Homo sapiens: one gene and its partners. The protein of the gene in region 3 interacts with the protein of the main gene of each other region in a pairwise test. Each region holds a gene or a part of one and is shown on either strand. Other genes may lie near its edges.

Region 1 (3,750 bases), on a different chromosome or scaffold from region 3:
AAACAGTTAAGATTTTTTTTTTTTTTAAATGATTCAGTGGAAATAGAATGGATTCTTCAAATAACTTAGCCACGGGTGGGATAAGGGACCTACTTAGTAAGTATTTTTTCCCCTTCTTTCTTAAAAATAGATCGATGTCTTAGGGTGGGAATTAGGCTTCCTGGGCGACACATCTAATGCAAAGATCAGCCACCTTTTTCTGTAAAGGATCTGATGGTAAACATTTTCCACTTGGAGAGCTATGCTCTTGCAGCTACTCAGCTCTGCTATTGCAGTGCAAAAGCAGCTAAAGGCAACGGTAAAGGAATGAGGGAAGGAGCCTTAGTTTATTTACAATAAAGCTTTATTTGCAAAAGCAGATGCAAGCCAGACTTAGTTTGCTGATCTCTGATCTACAGTCAGAATACACAGAGAAGGAGAGATTTTGCCGTATAATTTAAAATACTTCTCTTTGCAAAAGCAGTCCATAAAAAAAGTGAGGACGACAAACTGAGAAAAATTATTCACAACATGTCTGATTGATAGAGCACTAATATTCTTAATTCAAAAAGACATTTTATCACAAAAGAAGACAAATACTTAGAAAATTGTGCAAAAGACTTTCCATTTTGTTGCATAACGTAGGAAGCTTTGGTTTTACTTTTCCTATCATCTTTCTAACTTCCAGTACCAGCCTAATTTTGTTATTTTTATTATTATGTATTTATTTTGAGACAGAGTCTTGCTCTGTCTCCCAGGCTGGAGTGCAGTGACCTGACGATAGCTTACAACAGCCTCTACCTCCCAGGTTCAAGAAATCTTCTCACCTTAGCTTCCCGAGTAGCTGGGACTGTAGGCACATGCCACCATGGCCAGCTAATTTTTTATTTTTTGTAGAGACAGAGTCTCATTATGTTGCCGAGGCTGGTCTTGAACTCGTGGCTTCAAGCAGTCCTCCTGCCTTGGCCTCCCAAAGTGTTGGGATTACAGGCATAAGCCACTGCTCCCAGCCTTATTTCGTATATTTACTATAAGTGTGTGAAGGTCATGATCAGAACTGCCATATATTTTGGCGGGAAAATCTATCACCCTCAGATCCAGAGTCCATGGATATCTTGTTTTTAAAACGAAGATTTAAAAAATTACGGCAATGGCAGAGATGGAGCCCCAAGAGAATACTCAGCTTTAACCCAAGGTGTTGACAGGTTGGAAACAGTGGCTAAATTTGGGGATTGCAGTGGGGCGAGGCAGGGTGCAGGTCAGAGGGGGCCAGAAGGGCCCCAGCCATCCTAGATGGAGCCACAAGTACCAGTGCCAAGGCTCTTGGTCTGGAATTCTGAAAACATTTACCTCTGACCCTGGCAGCCCACTGGCCATTGCTTGTGTGCAGCCCAGTTGGCAGGGAACCCTATCCATGATTTGCCGCCTCTTTTCTGGTCCCTTCAGTATGAACCCAGCATCACAGTGCACTTGTGGCAGATGGCAGTGCATACCCGGGAGCTACTCTCCTCCGGCCAGATGCCCTTCTCCCAGCTGCCCGCCGTGTGGCAGCTCTACCCCGGGAGGAAGTACCGAGCAGCGGATTCCAGTTTCTGGGAAATAGCAGACCATGGCCAGGCAAGTGTGTGGTGGTTCTAGGTGAAAGCGACAGGTGGCCCCTGGTGACTGCCGTGGCCCTCTCTCTTCTGTGCCCCTGGCCCCCTTGGGGTTCTTGTCTGTCCTCTTCCTGTTGCTCAAGTCTTCCTTCAAGGAGGCCTGAGTGTGTGTGGGTGGATCGGTGCATGAGTTCCCATGTGGGATGCAGGCAGAGTGGGTGAGGGAGGGAGGGTTGCCTTCCCTGGGCTAGGGAAATCCACAAGCTGGAGTTCCCACCTGCCTCACCCCTGCCTGCTGCTGCTGCCAGCCTGCATGGGCGGCCGTTAAGGCCAACTGGAAGAGCATCTCCCAGAGGTTCTGATGGCTGCTCCCTCTCCTGCAGATTGACTCTATGGAGCAGCTGGTCCTAACATATCAGCCGGAGAGGAAAGACTGACACTGGGAGTGGCTGGTATGTTGGGGCCCTGTGCGTCTCAGTGTAGGGATCAGACGAAAGTGAGAAGACCTCTCCTCTTTTCAGAAAGACGGCGTGGCCTCCTCCTCCCTGCTGTTTGCTGAGATTTTTCTTACATAGCCACCTGTCACCTCTGTTCCCCAGCCCCTTGGATGTGATGGTACACAGTGGGTGGGCCCCCATAATAAGTTCCTAAAGCATGGGATCTCATCGAATAAGACTCATCATTTAATCCTTGTGAGAATTTTGTGAGGTGTACGTGTTAATGTCCCATTTCACGACGAAAAGACAAGACTCTGGGGATGGGAATGACTTCCTCGAGACCATACAGCCAGGAAATAGCGGTGAATCTAGTGATCTCGGGTCCCTAGATTTAACCATGGCACTGAGGTGCCGTGTGACGGTGGCCTTGGAGGACCCAGCACTGACCCATAGAGGGCTCCTCTCAGATGGGCAGCAGCTTGGAGCAGGCCAGGCAGGGCCTGGGCCATTGGAGGGGCTGGCACTGGACTTGCCTTTGACCCCAGCAGCTTGGATGGGGTGCCGGGCTCCCCCATAGTTCACTGACTGTCTCCTTTGGTCTTCTCGCAGGCCCTGCTGGCCCTGCCTCTTCTGGCCTGGTGTCTCCTCATGCCCCCTCAGTGAGGATCTTCATGTACCTGCTCTTCTGTTTGCACACCCAGCATAGCCTCCTTGCAGGCAGAAGGCAGTAGGGCCCCTGCACACTCAGTTTCTCTCGTTTTCCTTAGTTATCAGTCCTGTCCTGTCCCACTCAGGTCTGTACTTAGGGCAGCTGGCCTGGATGGGCTTCACTGGGGCCCTGTCTGTGTGCTGAGCCAGTTTCCCCTGCTGGCTGCAAGCTGTGGGTTCTTTCTCCTCTGTGCCCCTCATGCTGATCTTCTAGATGCCACTCCCAAATCCCCTTCATACCCACCAGGATGTGTGCCCAGCCAGGCCTCCAGCACCCCCAGTGCAGCTCGTGATTGGAAACTCACCATCGGCAGGCAGTGGTTCGGTTTAAGAGATGGCATTAGAGGGAGCCCAGTCTGGATGTGGACTTGGATGCCCTGTGGGTATCAGTTCTGCTGACACTTTGGCCCGAAATAGATCCAGTGCTGAGCAAGCAATGTACACCAGAGCCTCAGTGAGCCCATCTGCACAGTGGGGAGCATGGAGGGATGGGTTTGGCCTGTGCTTCTGCTTATTCAGTCCTTCAGCTCACGGAAGGGATGCTAGTCCGTGAAGGTGACCTCACAGTACTGGTTAATTAAACTTTATTGCTCACTGTCCACTTTTGTGCTGAATTGGAGCCTCTCTTTGACCTCTTTCTAGCATAGAAATGGCAGCTTCTGGTACCGAAATGTTAAGGTAACATTTTAATGATCCATTTCATATTTTTCCACACTGGGAAGGAAATTGTGATTGGTCCATTCAGCAGCAGGACGTCGGCGGGAGTTAAGGAAGGGGAGGAGACTCGTGCGGGCTCTGGGTGAAGCCCTGCTGTGAAAGGGCAGGAAAGCCCGTAGTGGTCACAGGAGAACCGGGAGCAAGGGAGAGCTCCCAAAGCGAGACAATGCAACAGCATGTCATTGCAGGAGATGCAGAATGCAGGTGCAAGGGAGGAAGGGCCCATGTGTGGGAGAGTATGACATGACAGAGGAGCAGAGTCCTTGAGCAGGGAGGGATGAGGCAGGGGGCCAAGGCACTGAGCAGTGCCACCA
Region 2 (3,650 bases), on a different chromosome or scaffold from region 3:
CCAAGAAATAAGGATTTTCATGTCTTCTGCTCAGTGGCATAACTCAAATCACATGAGATAGATTTCTTTGCATCTGTCCATTGTATTTCTCTGAGGCTAATTTACAGCACTTTGTCACGTTAGGTATTTTTTTTCCCCAGTGCTGCTACTCTCCAACTGGATTTCTCACCGCCTCTATTGCGATTCCCCAAGATTTAACCAGAGAATCTTAACATATTCAGAAGGGCAGCTGTACCTGTGAAAGGGCTTGGGCTTTGGGGTCAGCCTTGGCTTTGCTTTCCACCTCACAGGGTTTCTCTGTAAATTGCTTATGAATCTAACTCTGGTAGCACATAGTTGGGTTAATAAAAGTTCTTTTTTTTCTTCATTCTTTTACCAAAAAGAAAAAAATTCCCTGCAGGGCACTTTGCAGATGTTTTCATACTAGACCTCTCAGTAGCTTCTGACAGAAAATATACTGCCTTTGACTTAATAGTCATTTATGAAAATAGGTCATTTAAAACAAGCCTGAGTAGGAGTCAGGGGAGGGAGAGGAGGTATAGAGAGTGATTATGACTTTAATTTTGAAAGGAGAAGTTTTACCAGGGTGACCCTGAAGAAAGGTCTTTTTCCTCTTATGTGTTTATGGTTCAAGAGACTCATCTCTTGCTTCAGAAATTGTCAGAACTGTTTCTTCTGCTTTATCCAATTTAAAAGATGAAAACTTAAAATTACTTGAGCCAAGTGATGGGAAAAATTGTGGTGTCAAGACCAATTTACTCATACAAAATGGATTTATGGGCAAGTCATTAAGTAACAGGGAGTAGCAAGGAAGCCTAATGAAGACTAATGTAAAAGATACGGCTTTCCTAAAGTGATGGATAAAATGTGTTTGAGGCAACCCATATACTCTTTTCCAAATAACCTTAGAAGTATTTTTTTTCCAAGAGGTTTAGTAGAATGTAGATATTCTAGAGAACAGATGAGAAGCTTGTGAGCCCCTCTTGTCATGTGGCTTACAGTATTTTGAGGGAGAAAAGACCCACATAAAGAATACAAAAGAGGGCATAGTGACAGGTTATAGCAAATAAAATCAAATGCCAAACTATGTGATGCCAAAAGTAGGTGAGATGGGCATCTGCACTCTGCTATGGAAAGTAGAGAGTGGAACCCAAGCAAGTTCCTGCTTAAAACCCCTGTTTCCTATCATTGACAACAGTATTTCCCCTTGCCAGTTATTTCCTAGGCTTGTTCAAATAGATTGCTGGCTCCTACCCCAGAACTACTGAGTAGAATCTCCAGCTGATCCTAATGATTCAAGTTTGGGAAACTGACCCAGAGCCTCAACTCTGTGCTCCCTGTGAATGTGGCACAGCTCCCTGCCGCAGAGGCGTCTCCTCCTTGCCTATGTAGATTTTACGTTCTACCCAGACACTTGTTCCGTGCCTTTTCTGACTTCTCTTCTTTCAGCTAGGGGGTGACGCCTTTTCCTTCAAATTCAGCTCAGGTGTTAACTTCCAGAAATTCTTTGATCTGCCAAGCCTGGGGTAAGAGAGTGTTCTCTGCCCTTTTGTGCATAATTCTATCAGAATACACATCACCTTTGTAAAATTCTGCATTTACATGTTTCTTGCCCTCTCTGGAATGTAAACTCTGAGGGCTTAAGGCCTTGTCTTTGTGTTACATTCCCCAACCCTGTGCGCCTGAACTTGACAGGTGCTCCGTGAAAGTTGGAAGTGTTGATTGCCTTCAGGAAGAGATTGATGTTAATTGGAATACAGATAAAGCATAATGGACAAGGCGTTATCTTTGGTGAGCTTAGAAGAACATATCTGTGTTTATAAAAAGGTGTGGAAAGTTAATATTAATAATACTTTTAAAATAACCTATACTGTCAAGCAACTGATAGTCAAGATTTGCATTCTTTTTTCTGACAGTTATTAACTCTTTCCAGCTTTTGCTTTTCAAATGTTTTTAATCTGAAACTGTAAATACTCTATGAGCAGATGAAATTAGTAATAATTAAAGTAGTTAATATCTCCATGAACTAGAATCACATTACAAAGCATTTTAGTGATTTTTAACACAAAATAGCTACTTTTATCTCAGTTTTATACATAATGAAACTGTGGCATAATGGGATTTAGCATCTGTGATAGGAAATGCACCTGACTCATCAGTTGAGTATCAGGCCTTCAGAGTTAATATTCTCTCTAGATGTGTTCAGCCTCAAAACAGCATGTATTCAAAATGTAAATAAGGCGGTTTATAGATGAATGGGAAGATTTGTGTATTTTCACTAAACTCATTAAAGGTACTGAATCTGTTACAGTATTTATTTTGTATTTTTTCACTTTGTACTCAGAACAGTGTAAATAAAATTACTGTGTGATCTGAGTCCTGAATGAAAAGTGGTTGTCCTGAATAGTAGTTGTAATAGTAGTTGTAATTGTAGTTATCTGTTGAGATTGTGGAGCTAATAAAATAAGCTAGAAATTCAGTGGAAAAGTTAAGTTAACATTTGTTGAGCAAAATAATTTATTGCATTTTAAAAACATCTTTCAAACCTTGGGGGCAGTGTAGATTGTCCAAATGATAGCCCAAAATTCAAAGATAATTTCTGAAATTTGTATTTTCTTTTATTTGACTTAGGATGTTGACTTTTCTTGGCTAAATAAAATTATTTTACTTAAATTATGATTGCGTTTGTTTACTCACACTCTTTAAATGAGTTTAAATTCTTCTAGATTTTAAGTTCTTTAAGGCAGAGCCTTTGTGTATGACATGTTTTTGAATTTCCTTGCTCAGTGTGTACATGTACATGTAATTTGTTGAGCCCAGTAACCTAGAGTTCCAGCTTACTACAACTGCTGATCCCGTGTGAATTCACTATGAGAACGTCTCCAAATAATCCTTCTCCACACAAACTCAGATTATTGAGTGGATGGACTTAGAATGAAATAAGCATAGTGGAAGAATGTTTAATGAAAAAATAATGGAAGAATATTTAATGAAAAAATTTCATTGAAAACAAAAGAACAGCTTGAGTTCTTGAAGGGAATCCTTAAAATATTGTATCCATACTAACTTTTAAGTCTCAGTGCTATATAGCTGCTGAATAATAGTGATGCTGAATTTGACTGAAACAGAAAAATTAATTTCTGAAATATTTTTACTCAGTTTTTGCTTAACTACAGTTTTATTAACTTACCAACATATTTTGAAAGAGAGCTATTTTATAAGAAAAGATGCGTTTTGAAAGGAGTGATGTGCAGCTTTGCATGTCTGATGCTGTTGATTTGGGTGTGTAATGCTATCTCTTTTTCTGTGTTAGACTCCTGTTATACTTGAGTTTTAAGACTTTTTTCTTCATTATTTAGAGCACATATCTGCTATAGTCCTAATAGAGTAATTAAAAATCTTTGACTGTGTTATTGACTTTCAGAAAGCTGTTTAAGGTTGTGATTAAGAGTATGGGCTGGCTATCCACTTTCTAGCTGTGTGACCTTGAGCAGAGTGTTTAATCTTTCTGTGTCTTCTTCTTCATGTGTAAAATGAGGATAAAAACAATACCTCCCTTTTAGGGTAGAGCAATTTAAATTGATTAATATATATAAAGTTCTTGGAAAAGTGCTGGCATATAGTACACTCAAAATTACCTTTAGATTATA
Region 3 (3,750 bases):
TAATACCTGTACATTCATTTTAAGGACAATAAACTGAATCTATGGACAGTGAGATACTTTTTTAGCAAGGTTCTTCTGCATTATGACATTGGTTAGCAAATGTTTATAAGGGCCAGGCACAGTGGCTCACACTTTGGGAGGCCAAGGCAAGAGGATGCTTGAGGCCAGAAGTTTGAGACCAGCCTGGGCAACATAGCAAGACCCCATCTCTACAAAAAGAAAAAAGATTTAATGCCAGATGTGGTGGCACATGCCTGTAGTTCCAGCTACTTAGGAGGCTGAGGCAGGAGGATCACTTCAGCCCAAGAGTTTCAGATCATGGTGAGCTGTGATTGTGCCACTGCACTCCACCCTGGGCAACAGAGCAAGATCCTGTCTCTAAAAAAATGAAAAATGTGCTCACATTGGCAGCACATCTACTAAAATTGGAACAACACAGAGAAGATTAGCACGGCCCCTGCTTAAGGATGACACGCAAATTCATGAAGTCTTCTATATCTTTAAAAATAATTAATGAAAAATGTTTATAAAACATTCAAAAATAAAAATATTAAGCATACTATGCCACATTTAAGTGAAAAAACGAATTAAAGTCAGTATTTGCATTGTGGGTTTTTGGGAGGGGTTTGTTTTTGAGGCAGCGTCTCACTTTGTTATCTAGGCTGACTGCAGTGGTGTGATCACAGCTCACTGCAGCCTCAAACTCCTGGGCTCAAGTGATCCTCCCCCCTCAGCCTCATGAGTAGCTGGGACTATAGGTACACGTTACCACGCCCAGCTAATTTTTTATTTTTTACTTTTTTTTTTTTTTCCTTTTGAGACAGAGTCTTACTCTGTCGCCCAGGCTAGAGTGCAGTGGTGTGATCTTGGCTCACTGCAACCTCTGCCTCCTGGATTCAAGTGATTCTCGTGCCTCAGCTTCCCGAGTAGCTGGGATTACAAGTGTGAGCCACCACACCTGGCTGGGTTGTTTATTTTTTTTAAGTCAGTATATATGTAGAAAAATTGTAGGGATATTATCAAAATGTTAATCCTCCATACTGGAATTATGGATAATTTTTAAATTTTCCTTGTTTGTCTATTTTCCATATTATCTACGATGAGTGTGTATTTTTTAAATAAGGAATTTTTTATTAGGCAACAATTTTTTGTTTTTTTTTGAGATGGAGTTTTACTCTTGTCACCCAGGCTAGAGTGCAATGGCGTGATCTCCGCTCACTGCAACCTCCGCCTCCCAGGTTCAAGTGCTTCTCCTGCCTCAGCCTCCCAAGTAGCTGGGATTACAGGCACCTGCCACCACGCCCAGCTAATTTTTTTTGTATTTTTAGTAGAGACGGGGGTTTTGCCATGTTGGCCAGGCTGGTCTCGAACTCCTGGCCTCAAGTGATCTGCCCGCCTCGGCTTCCCAGTGTGCTGGGATTACAAGCGTGAGCCACCATGCCCAACCTAAGCAGCAATTTTTTAAATAGTGGAGAAAAATATTGGGACCAAATTGGTTTAGTAACCTAAATGGTCTGCCGAGGTTCTCCCTAGAAGACTTGTTGCCGTAAAGGGAAAAAGAGTCTTGTTACAGTTTAGATCTAGACTACAGAGCTGGTACGGTGGCGCACACCTGTAGCCCCAGCTACGTAGGAGGTAAAGGCAAGAGGATCCCTTTTTATTTTTGTCTTTTTACTTTTTTTGAGACGGTCTTGCTGTTGCAGAGGCTGGAGTGCAGTGACACATTCATGGCTCACTGCAGCCTTGAACTTCAACCTCCCAGGCTCAAGCAGTCCTTCCACCTCAGCCTCCTGAGTAGCTGGAACTGTAGGTGAACACCACCACACCAGCTTTTTTTTGTTTTGTTTTTTGGTGGAGTTAGTTAGGGTCTCACTGTGTTGCCCAGGCTGGTCTCGAACTCCTAGGCCCAAGTGATCCTCCCACCTCAGCCTCCCAAAGTGCTGGGATTACGACTGTGAGCCACTCCACCCGTCCTTAAAATAATTAAAAAAAAAAAAAAGTCTAAGGCCACATTGCCTCAATAACCTCCCTCTTGGATTCTCTGCAGTGGGGGAGATAGCTGTCTATAAGCAGCCCTAATTTTTTTTTTTAAGGAAATTAATCGTGGACTAATAGAAAATTAATCCTGACTAATATGGGATTTTGGATCACATAAAGCTCTGTTATACAAATACTTATTACTGCCTATAATCCCAGCACTTTGAGAGGCCAAGGCAGGCAGATCATGAGGTCAGGTTTCGAGACCAGCCTGACCAACGTGGTGAAACCCTGTCTCTACTTAAAATACAAAAATTAGCCAGGCGTGGTGGCACGTGCCTGTAATCACAGCTACTCAGGAGGCTGAGGCAGGATAATCGCTTGAACCCAGGAGGTAGAGGTTGCAGTGAGCTCAGATTGCGCCACTGCACTTCAGCCTGGGTGACAGAGAGACTCCATCTTGAAAAATATATACATATACTGATCACTATTAACCTCATTGTAAGTATGTATCCTATAGTAGTGTTGTCAGGCATTTCTTTGAAAAACTTACCGGTCCCTAGGAGAAGGATATTTCAGTTCCTGTCACAGTTATGAAAAATAATCTGAGCCTGATAGAGGAATCCATTTGCCTTGAGATCTGTGCTTTCTATTCTTGGTCTTCAGGTGAAGTTTTCAAACCTGTCTCTTTTGTAGGACTTGGAAAAGGAGAGTGACACACCCCTCCAGCAAGTATCCATTGAAGAAATTCTAGAAGAACAAAGGGTGGAACAGCAGACCAAGCTGGAAGCAGAGAAGTTGAAAGTGCAGGCCCTGAAGGACCGAGGTCTTTCCATTCCTCGAGCAGATACTCTTGATGAGTACTAATCTTTTGCCCAGAGGCTGTTGGCTCTTGAAGAGTAGGGGCTGTCACTGAGTGAAAGTGACATCCTGGCCACCTCACGCATTTGATCACAGACTGTAGAGTTTTGAAAAGTCACTTTTATTTTTAATTATTTTACATATGCAACATGAAGAAATCGTGTAGGTGGGTTTTTTTTTTAATAACAAAATCACTGTTTAAAGAAACAGTGGCATAGACTCCTTCACACATCACTGTGGCACCAGCAACTACTTCTTTATATTGTTCTTCATATCCCAAATTAGAGTTTACAGGGACAGTCTTCATTTACTTGTAAATAAAATATGAATCTCAAAAGTGTCATGTTATTTCCAAGTTTGAGTTACCTGTAATGAATAGATTAATAGATTAATTAAGTTTCTGCTCTCAAAGGTATAAGCAGTCCACATACTGGGATTTCCCCCTTCAGTCACAGTTTCAAGTAGCTGGCTACTTAGGAAGGAATATTTTTATTCCAGTCATCTCAGGGGTCCTCTCCTGTTTCCATGTTTGTATCTGTTAAGAAATACAAATGTTCGGCAGGGGCGGTGGCTCATGCCTGTAATCCCAGCACTTTGGGATGCCGAGGCGGGTAGATCACCTGAGGTCGGGAGTTGAAGACCATCCTGACCAACATGGAGAAACCCTGTCTCTACTAAAAATACAAAATTACCAGGGCGTGGTGGCGCATGCTGTAATCCCAGCTACTTGAGAGGCTGAGGCAGGAGAATCACTTGAACCTGGAAGGCAGAGGTTGCGGAGAGCCAAGATTGCACCATTGCACTCCAGCCTGGGCAATGAGCGAAACTCCGTCTCAAAAAAAAAAAAAAAAAAATATAAACGCTCAGGCGTGAGGAGGGAGCTTTCAGCTGTTTCCCAGTTACTGGTTACTG

Evidence for each region.
Region 1: the proteins of LSM1 (region 3) and TCL1B interact in binary tests that used the Homo sapiens proteins (3 or more experiments, as listed by UniProt).
Region 2: the proteins of LSM1 (region 3) and LSM6 interact in binary tests that used the Homo sapiens proteins (3 or more experiments, as listed by UniProt).

Annotation. Positions count from the first base shown.
Region 1 is NC_000014.9:95,689,311-95,693,060, forward strand, and holds the end of TCL1B (T-cell leukemia/lymphoma protein 1B), read left to right. Parts: intron 1-1,425; coding exon 1,426-1,596; intron 1,597-1,957; coding exon 1,958-2,011; 3' UTR 2,012-2,026; intron 2,027-2,620; 3' UTR 2,621-3,318; downstream 3,319-3,750. UniProt on the Homo sapiens protein: Enhances the phosphorylation and activation of AKT1 and AKT2.
Region 2 is NC_000004.12:146,178,644-146,182,293, forward strand, and holds part of LSM6 (U6 snRNA-associated Sm-like protein LSm6), read left to right. Parts: intron 1-3,650. UniProt on the Homo sapiens protein: Plays a role in pre-mRNA splicing as component of the U4/U6-U5 tri-snRNP complex that is involved in spliceosome assembly, and as component of the precatalytic spliceosome (spliceosome B complex).
Region 3 is NC_000008.11:38,162,764-38,166,513, reverse strand, and holds the end of LSM1 (U6 snRNA-associated Sm-like protein LSm1), read left to right. Parts: intron 1-2,673; coding exon 2,674-2,844; 3' UTR 2,845-3,175; downstream 3,176-3,750. UniProt on the Homo sapiens protein: Plays a role in the degradation of histone mRNAs, the only eukaryotic mRNAs that are not polyadenylated. Probably also part of an LSm subunits-containing complex involved in the general process of mRNA degradation.